Linked DNA regions of Homo sapiens: region 1 is linked to region 2. Evidence: fine-mapped expression QTL. Tissue or cell type: lung. Region 2 holds a variant in brackets; the other region holds the start of a gene. All regions are shown on one strand. Distances are between the middles of the regions. Region 1 holds the start of KCNT2 (potassium sodium-activated channel subfamily T member 2). Region 2 overlaps KCNT2 (potassium sodium-activated channel subfamily T member 2).

The links.
Region 1: KCNT2 starts here. The variant in region 2 is fine-mapped to the expression of KCNT2 in lung (TOPMed, PIP 0.97).

The regions. Positions count from the first base shown.
Region 1 is chr1:196,602,335-196,613,269 of GRCh38, forward strand. It overlaps KCNT2 (potassium sodium-activated channel subfamily T member 2), which reads right to left and starts at 6,106. Exons shown (of 28, transcript NM_198503.5): 1 at 5,881-6,106. The coding sequence starts at 5,975. RefSeq lists an enhancer at 6,441-6,957.
Region 2 is chr1:196,516,919-196,527,853 of GRCh38, forward strand. The region is part of intron 1 of KCNT2 (potassium sodium-activated channel subfamily T member 2); the gene reads right to left. Among named protein-coding and RNA genes, the nearest start is that of MIR4735, 60 kb to the right of the region's middle. The variant T/C (reference allele first, on the strand shown) is at 5,140.

The DNA.
Region 1 (10,935 bases), 85 kb after region 2:
ATATGACATAGGCAATACATAAATTAATAAAAACAGATGAACCATCAATGACAAAAGGATCAATTGCTGTGATCTCAATGTTGGTGTCCCCATGAAATTCATATATTGGAACATAATACCGAATGTGACAGTATTCAGTGGAGCCCCAGGGAAATGATTAAGTCACTCACAGAAGTACTACTAATACATAACCAAATGCAGAAAGTGGCTATATGATAGCTGTTAAATTAAATCAAACTTTAAAAATAAAGTATCAGTAATTTGAAAAGTCACATTTCAATTTTATTTATAAGAATTGGTTAAAAGAAAAGAACCTTGTGTGTTTTATATAAAATATTGATGTCTGAATTCTTAGTAGTGATTGAAAAACAATAATTATTAAATAATACATTTTTCTCTGCATTTTATGTATTACACTATATATATTCAAAGTCTATTTTTTTTTTTTTTTTTTTTTTTTTTTGAGACGGAGTCTCGCTCTGTCGCCCAGGCCGGACTGCGGACTGCAGTGGCGCAATCTCGGCTCACTGCAAGCTCCGCCTCCCAGGTTCACGCCATTCTCCTGCCTCAGCCTCCCGAGTAGCTGGGACTACAGGCGCCCGCCACCGCGCCCGGCTAATTTTTTGTATTTTTAGTAGAGACGGGGTTTCACCTTGTTAGCCAGGATGGTCTCGATCTCCTGACCTCATGATCCACCCGCCTCGGCCTCCCAAAGTGCTGGGATTACAGGCGTGAGCCACCGCGCCCGGCCCAAAGTCTATTTTTTATACCATTATCTGTTTAAGTTTCTAATTTTCTATTGCCTTATTTGTGGATATTTTTCTTAATAAAGTCGATATTGATAAGAAACACAGGATTGTCTAAACTCTCTTTCTAAAGTAAATGCTTAAATCATTTTTGTAGATATTGTATATGCATAGTTGATGCCACTATCGATTAAAGAGTAAAAATAATGTGTCATTCATTTTAATGGCGCTCAAAAATTTAAAATTGTCTTTACTAACCTGAACTTAAAATTTAGAATAAATATTTTATAATAAATGGCTGTTTTTCAAAACAATATATAATTTATAATGGAGATAAAGTTAGTAATTTATAAAATGTTTAATATGTCAATACAAAACCCATTCTCACAATTGAATTTGATTATGTAAAGCAATATATTTTGCAGTGTATATCTAAAATTACACATATTCCAAATGCTGTGGAAATATTTTTCTATTTTTGTAAATACCTCTTAAACTGTTAATGGATTGACTTGTACTATGTTCAAATCCTTTAATGTTTTAACAACTACAATGCATTAGTTGACTTCCTTGAATTACTTCTAAAGGCCACCTATAAAATACAAAAGGTATGCATGATTATTGGATTTGAAACAAGTGACCTGATTTTTGAAAACTAGAATGGTCTTAAATAAATGACCTTCTCTTCTATGGCTACAACTGAGGATTTTCCATTAACAGTAGTTGGAATTGTGACAATTTATTCACATTAAGTGTGTTGTGTTCCAAAGTTTAAAATTACTAAATCATGATGAAACAGGAGAAGACTTGTATAACTGGCTGATGACTTTTAAAACCTGTAACTTATCAGTGTTTAACTGCAGGAGAATACTCTAAATCTTTACTGCTTTGTGAATCATAGAAATATTAAAACAGAAAACAGGCTTGGAGCAGTGGCTCCCACCTATAATCCCAGCACTTTGGGAGTCCAAGGCAGGAAGATGGCTTGGTGCCAGAAGTTGAATATTGAATGTTGAATGCCTTGAGCTATCTCTAATATGTGATTTCAACTACTTTATTTTCAAGCAAATGCTGAATATCCTTTCTACAAATGGTGCAGAATCTTCTTGACAGTATTAAAATGGAAATTCTATAAGGACATCATCATAACATAAACAATACTGTCAATATTCTGAGGTGAATTAACCTCTTATCATATCTGTGACCCCCTCCAGACTGAGCGCTATTTCATATTCTTTTCCGTATTTGTCCCAAAACCTAACTTAATGGGGCCCTGAGACATAGCAAACATTCAAATATTAGCTGAATGAATGAATGGCCATTAAAGACATATCATACAAACCACTTGAATTAGATTTTTGTTTTTTGCTCAGGATGTCAAACAAGTAAGTGTGCATCATATATACAAAAGACATCCCTACACATAAGCAATATTCTCATTTAGCAACTCAAATTTATTTCATGGCCTCACAGAAGTAGTGTTATCCATGTGCTAAATTCTCTGCACTGCTGTGTCTAACCCTATTCCCATATGTCCTACTCAGAAAAGGATATCAGAGTGCAAATGAGAGAGAAGCAATTATCTAAGGATGGCGTAAAGATAATACAAAGACATATCTATTCATTACATATATTATAATATATATTATTAATCACATATTTGTAATATATGATGCATTACATAATATACAATTTTAGCATACAATATACAATATTTTATAATACATATATTACAAAAGCAATGCATATCTGTTACATATACACTATATACATTACATGTACATTATGCCAGTGTATGTGTATGTGTTTTTACCTACACAAAAGGTGGCACAATATAAATTTAGATGACCTACTTATCCAAAGTTGATTCACAGAAAATCTATGGTATGGAATACACATTTCCTACACCTAATAGGCCCATCAATATTATGTCTTTAACAACACCCATTTGAGCATCTATCATATGCTTCATTCATTTTCATGTGCCAGTCAACTATGACCTAAGATGGAGTTTGAAATTCTTACAGTGAGGAACAAGGTAGAAAGTGTTTATACTCCTACATTTGGAACACAATTCCCCCATCATTACAAGGATGTGGCTCTCTACATCCAGAAAACAGCTATCTTGATGCAGATTCTCCCAGAAGGTAAGCTTGAGATAGGATTGCAGCAAAAGCAGTTCATTTGGGAATTGATCACAGATAAAATACCAGTAGGGGAGAAGAGAGACAGAAGCCAATAAAGCTTTCAGTATTAAGCCAGTTATCACTGCGGGCAAGTGGAGCTCAGTCCCTTTGGACACAGTGTAGAACATGCTTCAGAATTCTCCAAGCTAAGGAGCAAGGAAGCAAAAGTATTGATTCAGAAACAGCCTATTTACTCAGTGACACTCCAGCTTGTTCTCCAAGCAGGACTTGGATGCACCTGAGGTTGGTGGTGGGGAGAAAACCTCATGCAGGAGGTGTTCAAAGAAAGTTGCTTTGAGAATATGGGCAGAGCACTAAATGTATCTGTTGTTGGAAATGATCTACCTACTCCTACATGAAAGAGGGCTTCCTCCTCAACTCTATAAGAATTGAGTCCAAGAAGATAACTGAGTAGAATGAGATTGCTATCCAGGCGTAATTGCAAAGAGGAATTTGTCACCATATTATAGACAAGGAAGATGACTTTACCTACCACATATTAGCTTAGGAGTCTGAAAAGGGAGAAAAAAAGGATTGCAAAGGGCAAATCAGAAGTGAAGAAGGGAACTAATATTTAATGAGCACCTAAACTATGCTAGGTGCTGTAAATTATTCTTATAAGTTCAAATAAATTAAGTGAAAAGAACTTAAGAATTTCTTGAGGGATTTGAATAATAATAAACTGAACTGAAGAGTTATCTTTACACTGATAAGATATAATATCCAAGACACGTATTTAATTTACCAAAATTTCAGTTTCCTTGTGCCTAACATAATTGCCTGCTATTCAGAGTTTGTCTGAGGATTAACTAAGAAAGAACATACCGCACAGTTAAAAGAACTTGGGAGTACTTATTTCCAACTAAATGTTAGTTCTGCGCCTCTCCATCCTTCCTCTTGTCACAGTTTTATAAGGTAGACAGTATAATTCCCATTATAAAAAATAATATTGCTGAATCTCATAATGGCTGAATGACTTTCCCAAGGCCACTCAGCTAGTGAAGGAAACAGCCAAGGACTGAATCTGGGTTTCTCTGATTCCAAGTATCTTGCCTTCAAAGATTAACAACAAATGGAACCAAAACCAAAGAATAGTTTTCCATGAAGCCACAAAAGTAGCCAAATCCTTAAAAATGGTTGAATGATTGTTTTAAATATTTAATAACTTATTTTAGTAGTAAATGTGGCCTGCTTTTTAAGTTAAAGTTGGGCTAGCATAACCTTTTAATAGAACATAAAATTTTAACCATTCTGCAAAACTTTTTTAATATGGCACTGATCCATTTAGGCAGTGTTCAACTAACCAAAATTCTTAATTACTAAAATATTTCTGCAGCATCCTTAGAAAAATGAGGGCAACCACATGAAAATTAACATATTGGATATGATATTTAAAACAAACAAACAACAATACCATCACTATAACCAAAGTATGTGCTTTATGTGTTTAATCTATCTCACACTTTCTACAAAGAGGATTTCTATTCTATATAATGATCCTGAGGTCCTGAACTAAATATACATTCAGTCACTAGGAACACCATGCTACACTTACTAAGCCATTTAACCAGGCTAATGCAGTTTATCTAAATGTCAATTTGTATTACAAATTCACTTAAAAATTATTTTCTTTATCTTCAGTTTACCCAAACACTTTACAAGAATACTGAGAAATTGGTATTACTTCTTTAAATTTTTAGCCAATATGTGTGGTTTTGCCTAAAAAAGAGATTGAACCAAAATATCCTCTACAAAACATCCATCTCCTTTCAAATTACTAATATGAGACCAAACAAGATGCCCATAATTGATGCTCAAGATAAAATCCTCAGTGTGTAGAGACAGGAGTTGGTATTGGGAGCTGAAAAGGTGAAGAAAAGAAATAGAGTGTATTGGTCAGTGGTGAATGAGGAGGGGATTTTGGATTGGACCAATAATGGATCTTTTATATAACTAAAATAGCACATCAATACTAAACTAAACTTCAATGAAACATTTCAATTGAGTTGAGAACCTAGTTAGTATACATGTATTATTTTAAAACAAAGAAATGTGGCATGTGATATATGGGATGACTATTCCAGAAAATACTAAATTCGCTGAAATACAAAATGTGCTTGAGACAGAAATAGACAGAGGAATTTCAGAAGTTTGTGCAAAGCAGTAATGCTATAAATAAAACACATGAACAATATTTTGCTAACAATAAATATTCTAGTTTTGAAACTTAATTTTAATTTTGAGACATATATTCTGTTTCAGTTAAAAAAATATACTAGTTATGAAAAGGTTGTATCATGTTATACAAACATCATTATTCATAATGGTCAGAGTCACCTGTTCAAAGTGAGTATATTGTATTAAAAAGGTTGTCATTTTCACTAACTACCTGTTACATATTTAAACCAATTGTCTACTTAAAACTCCAAAATGTTTAAACAGCATAAAATTTCCAGTGCCAAGTAGATACCTACTCAAGACAACACAGACAAGGAGGAGGTAAATAGACTCAGGAGATTTTAAGTTTCTAATGTGCTTTTTCAAACAACTTGCATGCAATTTTGAGTTTGATTAACCACACCTAAGGAAAAAATGCAAATTTTCTGGAAATGATATTGCATACCATTTGGGTGTATTGTACCTCTGATACCAGCCTTATACACATCCTAGAAAAGCACAGATAGACAAAAGAATAAGCACCAAATGAATGCAATAAATACCTTGCAAGAATAAGAAAAGTGTAAAGAAAAAGAGTTCCTTATCTATAGCAACAGTTATATAGAGTCAAAATGGAGAGACAAATCAGAGTCTCTTTTACTCCCTCCCCCAGCCTAGTCTCCCTCTCTGGCTCCGTTTTCCTTTTCTCCCTCCTTTCCCCACTTCGGCCCTCCCATTTCCGTCTCTTTTTCAGCAATATTTACAGAACAATCCTCCACCACACCACTCACCTGTCGTCGTTTTGCCATCCTTGGTCCCCTAGCAGCAAATCTCGAAACCTGTACCTGGGAGGCAGAGGGGGCACTTCGCTCTCCAAATCAACCATCCTTCCTCAAAGAGTGGGAAACATCAAACAACAAATGGAGGAGAGGAGGGAGAAAGAAAGAAAATATTGCGGAGTACAGGGAGAGGACTAACAAGACGCTGTGGCCGAGAGAGGGATGGGAGAAGGGGAAGGGGACAGGGAGGGGGAGGGGGTCCGCTTGGAGCCGGAAGCTAAGGCTTGAAAGGGGGCTGGCTCCTCTTTCCCGAGGGTGTAATGGGGATGATGCAAACCCAACCCAGGAGCAAAAGTCTGGCTCTGACAAGAATCAACGCTGCCAAGGAACCGCCCCCAGGCTCGGCACCGCCTCTGGTCCCCAGGACTAGGGGGAGGCGGGTATAAAAAGTTACTTCGCCGAAAAAGACGCGCGGTGCCTAGAAAGAGGGGAGAGGGGTGGGAGTGAGCGCCGCTTGATGGTGAAGCACTTTCCTTAAAGGCAGTTGCCAGATCCTCCCAGAGGGCAGCCTCCCGGCTACTGTTCCCTCGGGCGGGCTTGCATCCGGCACAGCCCTGAGCTGGCGGGAATCGGGGGCGGTGGGTTTCGGCCCCAGACGCGGCCAACCCGGCTCTCCCCGCAATCTCCCTGTGGAGATGGAGCTGGAGGCCCAGCCAATGAGACTCCCCCTCATTAGCATAGCACAGTGACGGCACGGGGGTGCCTTGGGGACAACCAATGGGGGCGAGCTAATTAGCGGATTGCGGGGCTCCAGACCCTTCTCTGGGAGGAGGGGGGCCAGGGTGCTTGGAGTGTTCCACTATGCCACGAGCTCCCTCGCTTTGATTGCCTTCAGTCCAGGTGGGCGGGATGAAAAAATTGCACGTTTCTGGAAAGGGAATCCCCACTCTCAGCCCCAGGAAAATCCCATTTTTTTCTCACATTCTGAAAGAAGGGAGGTGTTTCCCTGAACTCGGGGAAAAAGAAGGGCCACCTTAGGCCGCTGAAGAGAAGCATTTAGATGACAGGGAAAGCACATGGAAACGCACTGAGGATTTTACAGTGGTGAGTTGCTGTTACTGCTGTCGCTGCTACTAGCAGCGTTGTGGGCTTCCAGGTGGCCTGGCCTCAGCCTTCGGTCCCCTCCTATTAGTGGTTCACACGGAGGAAGAAGTGAGCCCGAGAGAACAGGGTCTGTTTTTCAGTAAGAACCACTGCTTACATGAACCCTGCTACACAAGCTATGGTTCTATTTGCGCTTACCGTTCTTTCCTTCAAAAACTGATTGCATCAGAGTATATACAGACCGAATACCAACCACCTGACAGCCTGGGCCGGAGGATAACCATATGGCTTCTCCTGCCCTTACTTAAGAACCGCTCTGTGTGGAGGAACAAGCTTGTTCCTTGATAAATGGATACGATGTGAGAGACAATAATCAAAGAACATACAGAGGGATTTGGAAATACCTGTGAGGTACACATACTTCTTCGAGGTGGGGGTCAAGGAAGACATTGAAAATGAACCAAGCCTTCTATATTCGTTCGCAGCCTACTTTAGGGAAAAGAGCAAAGGTGAAGCAAGCAGAGAGAATAGTATGAGTAGAGGCATAGGGATTTTTTAGAATATTTGGCTTATCCAGAAAATAGTGATTAATTTGGCATGATTAATGCTCAGTAGAGGTCATGTAGCAGAGGGTTTATTTAAGAAGCTAGAAATGAAGGAAGAAATTACCAAAACTTGTAACATCAAATGAAATACAATGACTACTGAAACCTGAAGAATAGCAGTTGAAATAAAAGTCATACTGTTTGTCTCTGTCTTCAAAATCCTACTCATCCTTCCAGACCCATCTCAAATTACATATCCTCCATTAGATTTCTTGGTTTTTCCAGCTTCTTATGATGTCTTCTTCCTTTGAACCCCTTTGTTTGAACCCTTCATAACCCATGTGAGTATTTTGCCTGGAATGCTTACTATAACCTGACCCGCTATACGATTATCTGTGCGTTTTTCTTTCAACTCTTCCCCTCTCCCTGTGGCTTAGCTGCCTCTAGCACGGGACCTTCAAAATAGCCACATTTCAACAAATAGGTGTGGAGTTGCATTAAAAGCTATTAAATCTAGGAAATTAAGCATGTTTTTTTCCATCCATGCTTGCACTCCTGTGGTATGTGTTTGTTTATGAAATCATAATTTAGCACGAACTTTTGTAATTACTTTGCTAAATAAGAAAGTAATATTGCTACATTATTAGTTTATACAGATAGAGATAGAGAGAGAGATCTGGTTTATATTTTAGACCTTATCATCTCCTATTAAAATGATTCTATTAATTTTATTTGTAATGTTCCAAGTTAATATTTATAGTTACAGTCTAACTGTATTATTTGGATGACAGAAAATCTGAAATATTTACATATCATTAACAGACTAAAAATCAAGACACTGAAAAAAGAAAAAAAATAGCAATCGATTGTTAGTCCTGGGATGCTGGAGGTTAGAGGGTAAAGTAACATTTTACTTAAAAGAAAGCTATGTGCCTCTATTTTACCTTTTGTGAAAATCTTAGTCATTTGGCTTCCAAATACTCAGATAAAAGTTTAGGAGAGAACAAATAGTACATTAAAAATAAATAAATAAGAAAAAACCTACTCAGCTAATACTGTGTGCCATTATGGATACAAACTATACAAAGTAATGTGCTCAGGGCAACCAATTGGAAACTACCACATTGATGATATTTTGATTCTCTGGTGTGTCTTGAAATTGTCCAAGTGAATTTTTTTTACTATAAACTTAAGAAAATTAGAAGAATAATGTATTATAGGAAATGCTATTGATATGGTTTGGCTCTGTGTTCCCACCCAAATCTCATCTTGAATTGTACTCCTATAATTCCCATGGGTTGCAGGAGGGACCCGGTGGGAGACAATTTGAATCAAGGCAGTAATATACGCCGTACTGTTCTCATGATAGTGAATAAGTCTCGTGGGATCTGATAGTTTTATCAAGGGTTGCCGCTTTTGCATGCTCCTCATTTTCTCTTGCCACCGCCATGTAAGAAGGACCTTTAGCCTCTCATCATGATTCTGAGGCCTCCTCAGCCATGTGGAACAACTGTAAGTCCAGTTAAACCTCTTTTTCTTCCCAGTCTCGGGCATGTCTTTATCAGCAGCGTGAAAATAGACAAATACAGTAAATTGGTACCAGTAGAGTGGGCATTGCTGAAAAGATACCCAAAAATATGGAAGCGACTTTGGAACTGGGTATCAGTCAGAGATTGGAACACTTTGGAGAGCTCAGAAAAAGAGAGGAAAATGTGGAAAAGTTTGGAATCTCCTAGAGACTTGTTAAATGGCTTTGACAGAATTGCTGATAATGACATGAACAATCAAGTCCAAGCTGAGGTGGTCTCAGATGGAGATGAGGAACTTGTTGGGAACTGGAGTAAAGGTGACTCTTGTTATGTTTTAGCAAAAAGACTGGCGGCATTTTGCCCCGCCCTAGAGATTTGTGGAACTATGAATTTGAGAGAGATGATTTTAGGGTATCTGGCAGAAGAAATTTCTAAGTAGCAAAGCATTTGAAAGGTGACTTGGGTGCTGTTAAAGGCATTCAATTTTAAAAAGGAAACAGAGTATAAAAGTTCAGAAAATTTGCAGCCTGACAATGCAGTAGAAAAGAAAAACCCGTTTTTTGAGGAAAAGTTCAAGCTGGCTGCAGGAATTTGCATAAGTAACAAGGAGTCAAATGTTAATCCCCAAGACAAAGGGAAAAATGTCTCCAGGACATGTCATAGGTCTCCATGGCAGCCCTGCCCATCACAGACCTGGAAACCTGGGAGGGAAAAATGGTTTCATAGGCCAGGCCTAGGGTCCCCATTCTGTATGCAGCCTAGGGACTTGGTGCCCTGCATCCCAGCTGCTCCAGCCATTGCCAAAAGGGGCCAACGTACAGCTCAGCTGATTGTTTCAGAGGGTGCAAACCCCAAACCTTGGCAGCTTTCTCCCATTTAGAAACGGGTGTATTTACCCAATACATGTACCCCATTGTATCTAGGAAGTAACTAGCTTGCTTTTGATTTTACAGGCTCATAGGTGGAAGGGACTTGCTTTGTCTCAGATGAGACCTTGGACTGTGGGCTTTTGGGTTAATGCTGAAATGAGTTAAGACTTCGGGGGACTGTTGGGAAAGCATGATTGGTTTTGAAATGTGAGGACATAAGATTTGGAGGGGCCAGGGGTGGAATGATATGGTTTGGCTCCGTGTCCCCACCCAAATCTCATCTTGAATTGTACTCCTATAATTCCCATGTGTTGTGAGAGGGACTTAGTAAGAGATAATTTAAATCCTGGGGGCAGTTTCCCCCATACTGTTCTCATGGTAGCAAATAAGTCTCATGAGATCTGATGGTTTTATCAGGGGTTTCCCCTTTTGCATCCTCCTCATTTTCTCTTGCCACTGTCATGTAAGTGCCATGTAAGTGCCATGTAAGTGTCTTTCACCTCCCTCCATGATTCTGAGGTCTCCCCAGCCATGTGGAATGTAAGCCCAGTTAAACCTCTTTTTCTTCCCAGTCTCAGGTATGTCTTTATCAACAGCATGAAAACAGACTAATACAGCTATTCTGGCATTTTTTAAAATATAGCAATATTTGGGCATTGAAACACATTTATAATTGGAAGATCATTTTGCTCCTTGTATTTTTTTTTCAGTCTTCTGTAGGTGTACTTTTTCTTTTTTGTCGTTAATTTTGACTTCTGTTTCTCCCATCTGTCTTTCTACTCTTTCATTCGTTTTTTTCTTGTCATGTCATGTCATTTCCTGCTGTTAAAATGTATTTTCCTCTTTCACTCTTTTTACCTTTGTTTCCCTTTTTCACTGTGCTCTTTTAATTGCCTACCTCATAGAGCCTTTCCTTTCTCTATGTTTTATTCTACTATGACTTGAGATTTGCTTTTTGGAAACAATTTTAAACTTAGTTCTGAACATTGCAATTTTGTATCTTACTCACTGATGTTCTTA
Region 2 (10,935 bases):
GTGGGTCCCTGATCTCATACTTCCTCATTGGGTGGGTCCTCCCAGCCTGAGTCTCCAACCACCCCCCAGCTGGGACTATGGAGCCAGTAGCAGCTCTACAACTCCTGGGAGAGAGCTCCCAATGGGAGTGGGGATTGCCGTATTTGCTTACAGCCTTCATGCTTGCTGTCTCCACACTCTGGGGAGTCCACGGCAACCAGAGGCTGGTCCAGACCCCCAGAACAGAGCACCCACCTCACAGAAAAGTGGTCAGACGGTATTCCATGCAGGTCCCAGTACTCTCTTCTCCCTACTGGGCAGGGTCACCTGACATATGACTCCAGTAATACCATGCTGCCCCCACTTTACCACTTTAATCAGAGGGAGCCCAGCAGTTAAAGCAATATCCACACACAGAGATGAGAAAGAACCAATGCAAGAACTTGAGCAACTCAAGTGGGCAGAGTGTCTTATCTCCTCCAAACAGCTGCACTAGTCTCTGACAAGGGTTCTTAACCAGCCTTAATTGGTTGAAATGACAGAAATAGAATTCAGAATATGGATAAGAATGAAGATCACCAAGATGCAGGAGAACAGCAAAGTGCAATCCAAGGAAACTAAGAATCAATAAAATGACAAGGAGGTGACAGATGAAATAGCCAGTGTAAGAGAGAACCTAACTGATCTGAAAAGGCCGAAAAACACACTACAAGAAATTCACAATGCAATCGCAAGTATTAACAGCAGAGTAGAACAAGCTGAGGAAAGAATCTTAGAACTTGAAGAGTGTCTCTCTGAAATAAGACACTCAGACAAAAATAAAGAAAAAAAGAATACAAAGAAATAAAACCTCCAAGAAATATGGGATTATGTAAAGAGGCTAAATAGATGAGTCACTGGCATCCCTGAAAGGGACAGGAGAAAGCAAACAACTTGGAAAACATATTTCAGGATACTGTCCATGAAAAGTTTCCTACCTTGCTACAGAGGCTAACAGTCAAATTCAGGAAATACAGAGAACCCCTGCAAGATTAAACACAAGCAGATTATCCCTAAGACACATAATCATCAGATTTTCCAAGGTCAAAATGAAAGAATATTAAAGGCAGCTAGAGAGAAAGGGCAGGTCACATACATAGGAAACCCCATGAGGCTAACAGTGGACCTCTCTGCAGAAACCCTACTAACCAGCAGGCATTGGCAGCTTGCATTCAACATTCTTAAAGAAATAAAAAATCTTCAATCAAGATTTTTATATCCAGAGAAACTAAGCTTTCTCAGAAAAGAAGAAATATGATCCTTTCCAGATCAAATGCTAAGGGAGTTTGTTACCATCAAGCCCACCTTAGAATAGACATCGAAAGAAGCACTAAATTTGGAAAGCCAAAACCATTACCAGCTAATAAAAACAAAGCTAAGTACGTAGACCAGTGAAACTACAAAACAACCACACAAAAAAGCCAGCATAATAACTGGTTAAAAACACATGAGAGGATCAAATCCACATGTATCAATACTAATCCTGAATGGAAACAGGCTAAATCTCACCATTTAAAAAGTACAAAGTGGCAAGCTGGATTTAAAAAAAAAAAAAAAAAAGCAAGATCCAATGGTATGCTGTCATCAGGAGACCCATCTCATATGCAATGACACTGATAGGATCAAAATACAGGGATGGAGGAAAAATATATCAAGCAAATAGAAATCAGAAAAAAGCAGAGGTTGCAATGCTAATTTCAGATAAAACAGATTTTAAACTAACAAACAACAAAAATGATGGAAAAAAAAGCACATTACATAATGGTAAAGGGTTCAATTCAAGAAGAAGACCTAACTATCCTAAATACATATGCAACCAACACAGGAGCAACCAGGTTTATAAAGCAAGTTCTTAAACTTACAAAGAAACCTACAAAGAAACTTAGACTTCCACAAAATAATAGCGGGAGACATCAACACTCCAATGACAGTCTTAGAGAGATCAGTGAGGAAGAAAATTAACAAGGACATTCAGGACCTGAACTCAACATTGGACCATATGGGTATGATAGACCTCTACAGAACTCTCTACCCAAAAACAACAGAGTATACATTCTTCTCATTGCCACAAGGCACATAGGTTAAAATTGACCATACAATCCAACATAAAAAAATCCTCAGCAAATCCAAAAGAACCAAAATCATACCAAACACACTCTCAGAACACAGCACAATAAAAATTAAAATCAAGAATAAAGAAAAAAATCACTCAAAGCCATGCAATTACATGGAAATTAAATAACCTGCTCCTCAATGACTTTGGAGTAAACAATGAAATTAAGGCAGAAATCAGGAAGTTTTTTGAAACTCGTGAGAACAAAGATACAACATATCAGAATCTCTGAGACACAGCTAAGGCAGTGTTAAGAGGGAAATTTATAGCATTAAACGCTGATATCAAAAGTTAGAAAGATCTCAAATTAACACCTTAACATCACAACTAGAAAAACTAGAGCAGCAAAAGCAAACCAAACCCAAAGCTAGCAGAAGACAAGAAGTAATCAAAATCAGAGCTGAACTGAAAGAGATTGAGACAAGAAAAACAAATAAAAAAATCACTGAATCTGGGGGTTAATTTTTTTAAAAAAATAATAAGTTAGATAGGCTAATACCTAGACTAATATAGAAAAGAAATAAGATCCAAATAAGCACAATCAGAAACAACAAAGGAGATATTACCACTGTCCCCACAGAAATACAAATAACCATCAGAGACTACTACGAACACCTCTATGCACACAAACTAGAAAACCTAGATGAGATGGATAAATTCCTGAACACATACACCCTCCCAAGACTGAACCAGGAAGAAATTGATTCCCTGAACAGACCAAAAATGAGCTCTGAAATTAAATCAGTAATAAATAGCATACCAATACACAAAAAAAGCCCAAGACCAGAAAGATTCACAGCTGAATTCTACCAGATGTACAAGGAAGATCTAGTACCATTCCTATTGAAACTATTCCAAAAAATTGAAGAGAAGTGATTCTTCCTTAGCTCATTCTATGAGGCCAGGATCATAGAAACGATACTAAAACCTGGCAGAGGCACAACAACAACAGCAAAAAGAAAACTTCAGGCCAATATCCTCAATGAACATGTATGCAAAAATTGTCAACAAAATACTGGCAAACCAAATCCAGCAGCATATCAATAAGCTAATCCACCACAATCAAGCAGGCTTTATCCCTGGGATTCAAGGTTGGTTTAACGTATGTAAATCAATAAATGTCATACATCACATAAACAGAACTAAAGATAAAAACCACATGATCATCTCAATAGATGCAGAAAAGGCTTTTGATAAAATTCAACATCCCTTGATTTTAAAAACTCTCAGAAACCAGGTATTGAAAAACCATATCACAAAATAATAAGAGCTATATATGACAAGCTCACAGCCAATATCATACTGAATAGGCAAAAGCTAGAAGCATTATACTTGAAAATTGGCACAAGAGAAAGATGTCCTCTCTCACCACTCCTATTTAACATAATATTGAAAGTCCTGGCCAGAGCAATCAGGCCCAAGAAAGAAATAAAGGGCATCTAAATAGGAAGACAGGAAGTCAAACTATCCCTGTTTGTAGATGACATGATTCTCTATCTAAAAAACTCCACAGTCTCAACCCAAAGCATGGTACTGGCATGAAAACAGACACACAGACCAATGAAACATGGTAGAGAACCCAGAAATAATGGTGAACACCTACAACCATCTGATCTTTGACAAAGCTGACAAAAGCATGCAATGGGGAAAGGACTCCCTATTCAATAAATGGCACTGGAATAACTGGCTAGCCATATGCAGAAGATTGAAACTGGACACATTTCTTACACCATATGCAAAAATCAACTCAAGATGGATCAAAGAGTTAAATGTAAAACCCAAAACTATAAAAGCCCTGAAAGACAACCTAGGTAATACCATTTAGGACATAGGAATGGGCAAAGATTTCATGACAAAGACACCAAAAGCAATCACAACAAAAGCAAAAATTGACAAATTGGATCTAATTAAACTTAAGAGCTTCTGCTCAGCAAAATAAACTATCAACAGAGTAAACAGACATTCTACAGAATGGGAGAAAATATTTGCTAACTATACATCTGAAAAAGTCTAATATCTATAGGGAATGTAATAAATTTACTAGAAAAAAGAAAACAAGTAGCCCCATTAAAAAGTGGGCAAATGACATAAACATCAACTTTTCAAAAGAAGATATACATGCAACCAACAATCATATAAAAAATAGCTCAACATCACTGATCATTAGAGAAAAGCAAATCAAAACCACAATGATATACCATCTCACACCAGTAAGAATGGCTATTATTTTTAAGAAGTCAAAAAATAACAGATGCTGGTGAGGTTGTGGAGAAAAGAGAACGCTTATACATTGATGGTGGGAGTGTAAGTTAGTTTAACCATTGTGGAAAGCAGTTTGTTGATTCCTCAAAGAGCTAAAAACAGTACCACCATTTGACCCAACAATCCCATTACTGGGTGTATACCCTAAAAGAATATAAATCATTCTACCATGGAGATACATGCACCCACATATTCTTTGCAGCAATATTCACAATAGCAAAGGCATGGAATCAACATAAATGTCCATCAATGGTAGACTGAAAAAAGAAAATGTGGTATATATACACCATGGAATACTACTCAGCCATAAAAAAGAATGAGATGATGTCCTTTGGAGGAACATGAATGGAGCTGGACGGCATCATCCTTAGCAAACCAACATAGAAACAGAATACCAAAAACCATATGTTCTCACAAGTGGGAGCTAAATGATGAGAACACATGGACACAAAGAGGGAAACAATAGACACTAGGGCCTACTTGAAGGTGAAGGTTGGGAGGAGGGAGAGGATCAGAAAAAACAACTATTGGGTACTAGCCTTAGTACCTGGGTGACAAAATAATCTGTACAACAAACCCCTATGACACAAGTTTACCTATATAACAAAGTGAACATGTACCCCTGAACCTAAAATAAAAGTTTTTAAAAAGCACATTAAATTATAAAATAAAGATGAATGTCAGGAATTCATAAATAGATTCATAAGTAATTAATTAATTAAATTCCAGTAGTACTTGTAGTTTTG[T/C]CTAACAATACACCACAGAATATAATAATCACTGTAACTTATATTTAAACAATGTGCTTATGCAGAAAGAGTCAGTATACTGGGAAACTCCATTCCAAACCTGCTTTCATTTTCTGCATGCATATTTACAAATTTTGTCTTTTTGTATCCTAGATTGCTTGTAAACTTCTTTATGTTAACAAAAATTAAAGATTAATTGAGATGAATTTAGTTTAGGTGTCCATAAATGAGCTATAGGCCAAATACAAACTAGATAGAAGTGATGGAAGATAATACATATGTGAAAAGTATTACTACTAGAGGTACCAGCAGTTTTTGATGAAGAACAGATGTACATTTACCAAAATGATGTTCTAATACAAATAGTAAAATCTGTGGAAAATAAGTCATTAAACCTTACATTTTTATGCTTCAACTCTTAAAATAATTTTCAGATGCCTGAACTGTTTTATTCATTGGGTTTAATATGACTTCATACTCCTTAGTTTGCAATTGAGAAAAATAAGCTACTCATACTAGTGAGAGGTGAAGCCAGCGGGACTTCCTGGGTCGAGTGGGGACTTAGAGAACTTTTCTGTCTAGCTAGAGGACTGTAAACGCACCAATCAGTGCTCTGTGTCTAGCTAAAGGATTGTGAATGCACCAGTCAGCACTCTGTAAAAACGCAGCAATCAGCACTATGTGTCTAGCTAAAGGATTGTAAATGCACCAATCAGCACTCTGTAAAAAACGCACTAATCAGCATGTTGTGTCTAGGTAAAGGATTGTAAATGCACCAATCAGCACTCTGTAAAATGGACCAATCAGCACTCTGTAAAATGGACCAATCAGTGCTCTGTAAAATGCACCAATCAGCAGGATGTGGGCAGGGACAAATAAAGGAATAAAAGCTGGCCACCCAAGCCAGTGTGGCAACCCACTTGGGTCCCCTTCCATGCTGTGAAAGTTTTGTTCTTTTGCTCTTCACAATAAACCTTGCCGCTGCTCACTCTTTGGGTCCACACTACCTTTTTGAGCTGTAACACTGCGAAGGCCTGCAGCTTCACTCCTGAAGTCAGCAAGACCACGAAACCACCAGGAGGAACAAACAACTCTGGACGCACCACCTTTAAGAGCTATAACACACACTGCAAAGGTCTGTGGCTTCACTCCTGAAGTTAGCAAGACCACGAACCCACCGGAAGGAAGAAACTCCAGACACATCTGAACATCTGAAGGAACAAACTCAGGACACACCATCTTTAAGAACGGTAACACTCACCATGAGGGTCTGTGGCTTCATTCTTGAAGTCAGCAAGACCAAGAACCCACTGGAAGGAACCAATTCCGGACACACTAGCTTAAATTAAGAAGGAATTTAAAGCCTCTCAAAAATGAAAAGTGTAGACTGGTGACACCTACAGACATGGATTGAAGCAGGAGCCCATCTATTCACCGCTACTTTATTTTTCTCCATCTCCAGTTACAATTCCCTTGGTTCATTCAGAAGCAGATTTTCCTTCATGGTGGCAAGATGTCTGCAACTGCTCCAGAAATTGTATTTATTCTTGTTGAGTCCAGAAAGAAAGAGAGTCTAGACCAGAATTTCAAGAAAAACTTCTATTGGGTCTCAAAGCATCTGATAGAGCCATGCATCTACCTTTAAATTAAAAACTGAGGTCAGAGGATATAAAGTTCCTTAACTGACTTAGCCTGGTAACGTTTGTGAAAATAAGCGATTCAAATTAAAGCTGTTGGAACTTTCAATTATTTTGAGTCTTAAAGAAAATGTGATTGTTTCTCTAATTATAGATTAACTTTTTCCTTACCTACTTTGTTTTGTAAAATGTTGCAAAAGATTAAATGACACCAGAGATAAGCTCTCTTCCCTCTTACTTGTTGACCCTCATTATAGGTTAACTTCCTCCTTTTTTCTCTTGCACCTGACACAGATCAGATAGCACAAAGACTCTATGATTATCAAGTTGCTCAAGATGAACTGTTAAGTATACCTTTCCCAAAAACGAACAAGCTGTAACTAATCAAATTGTAATTCATAAACCAGCTTTATATGAAAATGTTGTAATCCTACTAAATTTCTTTGTTTCTACCTATAAAGGTAAAATCCTAGTTCTCCACTTCAGAACACTGACCCCATTCATTTGGAGTCTGTGTTTCCTGGGCAGCCATCCTTAAATTTCACACTTGAGTAAATTCTTTAGAACTGGATTCTGATCATTTTGATTATTTCAGGTTCACACATTCTTATTGGGAGTTTGAATGAGAATGGGGTGGAGAAGGGTACAAAGGTCCACGGACTGAGAATAAGGGGGGAAAAAAAGTGGTTTTCCAGAGAGGAATCAGGAATTGTTACCAAAAATGAGACAATGGATGTCCAGTGGTATAAAATAACATGTCCACTAAAGAGGATGGCAAGTAAATAATTATCACTAATGCCATATTACATAATAATTTTCCATATTTCACTAAATACAATGAGTGAGGTTATCAACATCATGCTGTATCATTTAATGTCCATGTTTCAAATGTAAATACAAGACATATTACATAATACGATGTAAAACAGTGAAGTTCACACTAAAGTCATATATAATAAGATATATTTTGTGTTAAGGAAAATCTTCATTTTCCTATATCCCGGATATCATTATCAAAAAATAATATTGATAGTGGTGTTATTAAATGTAATATTTGGGTTATCTACCTATTGTAGTCCCAAGCTATCAAATTTTCATTTTACTTCTATTTCTAGCAACAAATAGGAAAGTCAATCAATTTAGATCTAATTTATGTTCCATAAACTGTCTTCTAGCTTAAAAAATATTAATTTAATAAATCACTAGGTTTTGACTTTTATAAATACAATGAGTATTATAGAATCTTCAATTTCTCATCTATTTTATATTGCTATGGTTGAAGTAGAGAAAAGGAAGAAATCTGGTGATTTGTTGTATTTTGGAGATCTTTGCAAAGAACAAGTCAAATTTGACTTTGAGATTCTAGCTCAAGCATCAGATTAGATGTCAATGTCATTTACAAGGATAGCTAATATCACAAAAAAAGTAGCTATTCAGTGGTTTTTGATTGTCGAAGAAAGTGAGGGAACAGGTAGAAAACGACCACAATGGTAGTATTTTCACAGTTATTTGTAGATTTACGTAAAGCAAATAAAAAAAAAAATCAGTTGTCTGCACAGCAAATTCCCAGATGGAGTTGACCCAGGCCATGCTCTGCCTTCTCGTTTCAGCTCTCATACTGTAAACAAGTGTCTTTTTCATGGTCTTAACAGTGACACTTTTTTTTGTATTTTTATGCTTTTTGTTCGTAATTTCCCTGTTTAATAGCTCTTACATGTAACGTTGAGTTTCTGCTACTGTTACTAAGTGCAAGAAGGCTGTGATATACCTTACAGAGAAATATATGTGTTAGATGAGCTTTCTTCAATCATGAGTTATAGGGCTGCTGTCTGTGAGTTCAATGTTCATCCAGATAATCACCAATCTGTATATGGGCCTGCTCTAGAAAGTGCTAAACTAACATTTATTGTGCATAATGAGGCTATAGAAAAGATGGGAAGGTAGCTAAATTTGTGAATTCATGAGGTGATAACTGATTTTAAAACAACAAAAAAAGCACAGTAGGCAGTACTGTTACGAGGCTGAAAGCCAAAAAAGTTTACATTACTGTTTACAGCCATGTTGGCCAGAATCAAGAAGTGTGAAAACTTTCTTAGCTAGCGTTTTATTATAATGAAATACTGTACATATTTAATTATGTAATATAAATATACATTTTAAAAGGTGTCTTTAAACAGACATATACATAAAACAAGGTTATGTATTGAACACTTGACAAAAAATGTGACCAAAGGTTTAGAAGTAGTAGTTTAGTATTCACTAATGCAGAGTTGATGGCAACTTTATAGAACATAAATAGCACAAATAATGAGAACTGACTCTGTGTGTGTGTGTGTGTGTGTGTGTGTGTGTGTGTGTGTGTGAATCAGCACACTGAGGGGTACGCAAAAAAGTGCTAGACACAGTCCCTGACTTTGTGTTAACATTTGAGGAACAGACAAGAATGCATTGGATCATCCAAATAAAACTACAAGGTAGGGTCTTAAGGCTCAGTGTGAGTGAAACTTTACACATATAATTACATAAAAAATGTTCATGTATAATTTATATATGCTATGATATATATAAACATACATACAATTTCAATGCTTATATTTTATAAATTATAATATATAAATCATATAAAATATAAATGCACACATACACAGTCCATTCAAATGTTATATGTTACATTATTGTATACATAAATTATACATATATAATTTACATACATACAGTATTACTCGCTCTGAGTCTTAGAACCTTACCATGTAGGTTTTTTGTTTGGTTTTTTTTTTTGAGATGGAGTCTTGCTTTGTCGCCAGGCTGGAGTGCAGTGGCACGATCTCGGCTCACTACAACCTCCGCCTCCCAGGTTCAAGCGATTCTCCTCCTCAGCCTCCCAAGTAGCTGGGATTACAGGCACGCGCTGCCACACCCAGCTAATTTTTGTATTTTTAGTAGAGATGGGGTTTCACCATGTTGGCCAGGATGGTCTCAATCTCCTCACCTCGTGATCTGCCCACCTCGGCCTCCTAAAGTGCTGGGATTACAGGCGTGATCCACTGCGCCCGGCCACTATGTAGTTTTTTTTGGATAAGCCAATGTGTTCTTGTCTGTTCCTTAAATGTTAACAACACAAAGTCAGGGACTGTGTCTAGCACTTTTTTGCATACTCCTCAGTGTGTTTATTCTGTAACAGTGGTCCCTAACCCCCATGCCTCAGACTAGTACCAGTCTGTGACCTGTTAGGCCCACAGCAGGAGTTGAACAAGCATTACCACCTGAGCTCCACCTCCTGCAGCGACATTAGTTTCTCACAGGATCGCAAACTCTATTGTGAACTGTGCATGTAAGGGATCTATGTGGTGTGCTCCTTATGAGAATCTAACTAACGTCTGATGATCTGAAGTAGAACAGTTTCATGCCAAAACTGTGCCCCCACTGGTCTATGGGAAAACTGTCTTCCAAGGAACCAGTCACTGGTGCCAAAAAGGTTGGGGACCACTGTTCTATAGGATATCTCAAATCTTCTTGTAGAAGAAGCAAAAGAGCGTTTGAAATGGCAAGTTATCTCTTTTATTCATTTTAATGTAAAAAGATGTACCTCATAGAACTTATGAGAGCTATTAATAAGCTTCAGTAACTTGTCTTCTGTTTGTCCAATATAAGGTATTAGTAACACAAAGGTTGAAGCACAGACATAAAAATGCATCATACTAACATGAAGTTAGGTTAAATTACCTGAAATATGTTCAAAAGTATTCACGTGTGAGTAATGACAGTTTATTAGCAAAACAGGGTAACGTAAAATGAATGATATTAATAATCTAACAAATTTTTTGAAAATGAGGCCATTATCTTTACAGTTTCAAGTACTTTAAAAGCTGCTTAAATTTCTTTCATGGGGAACAATATTAATAGGAAACCATTATTCTGCTTGTGAATCAGCATGTGCTCTTGAAAGTTGCATATATTTCTAGCATATGAAGGATATATGCTTAATTACTCAGAAACTTTCATTTCAATAAAAATATGAAGTTACCATTTGAAAAGTTCCAATTTGTTTAAATAATTTAATGTGAAGCAAACTTGCTGGTGCACAAGAAGGAACATAATTCCTATGAACGGAGGTACACCCCTTTCACACACAGTGACAGAGCAAGAATTGAACATAGGT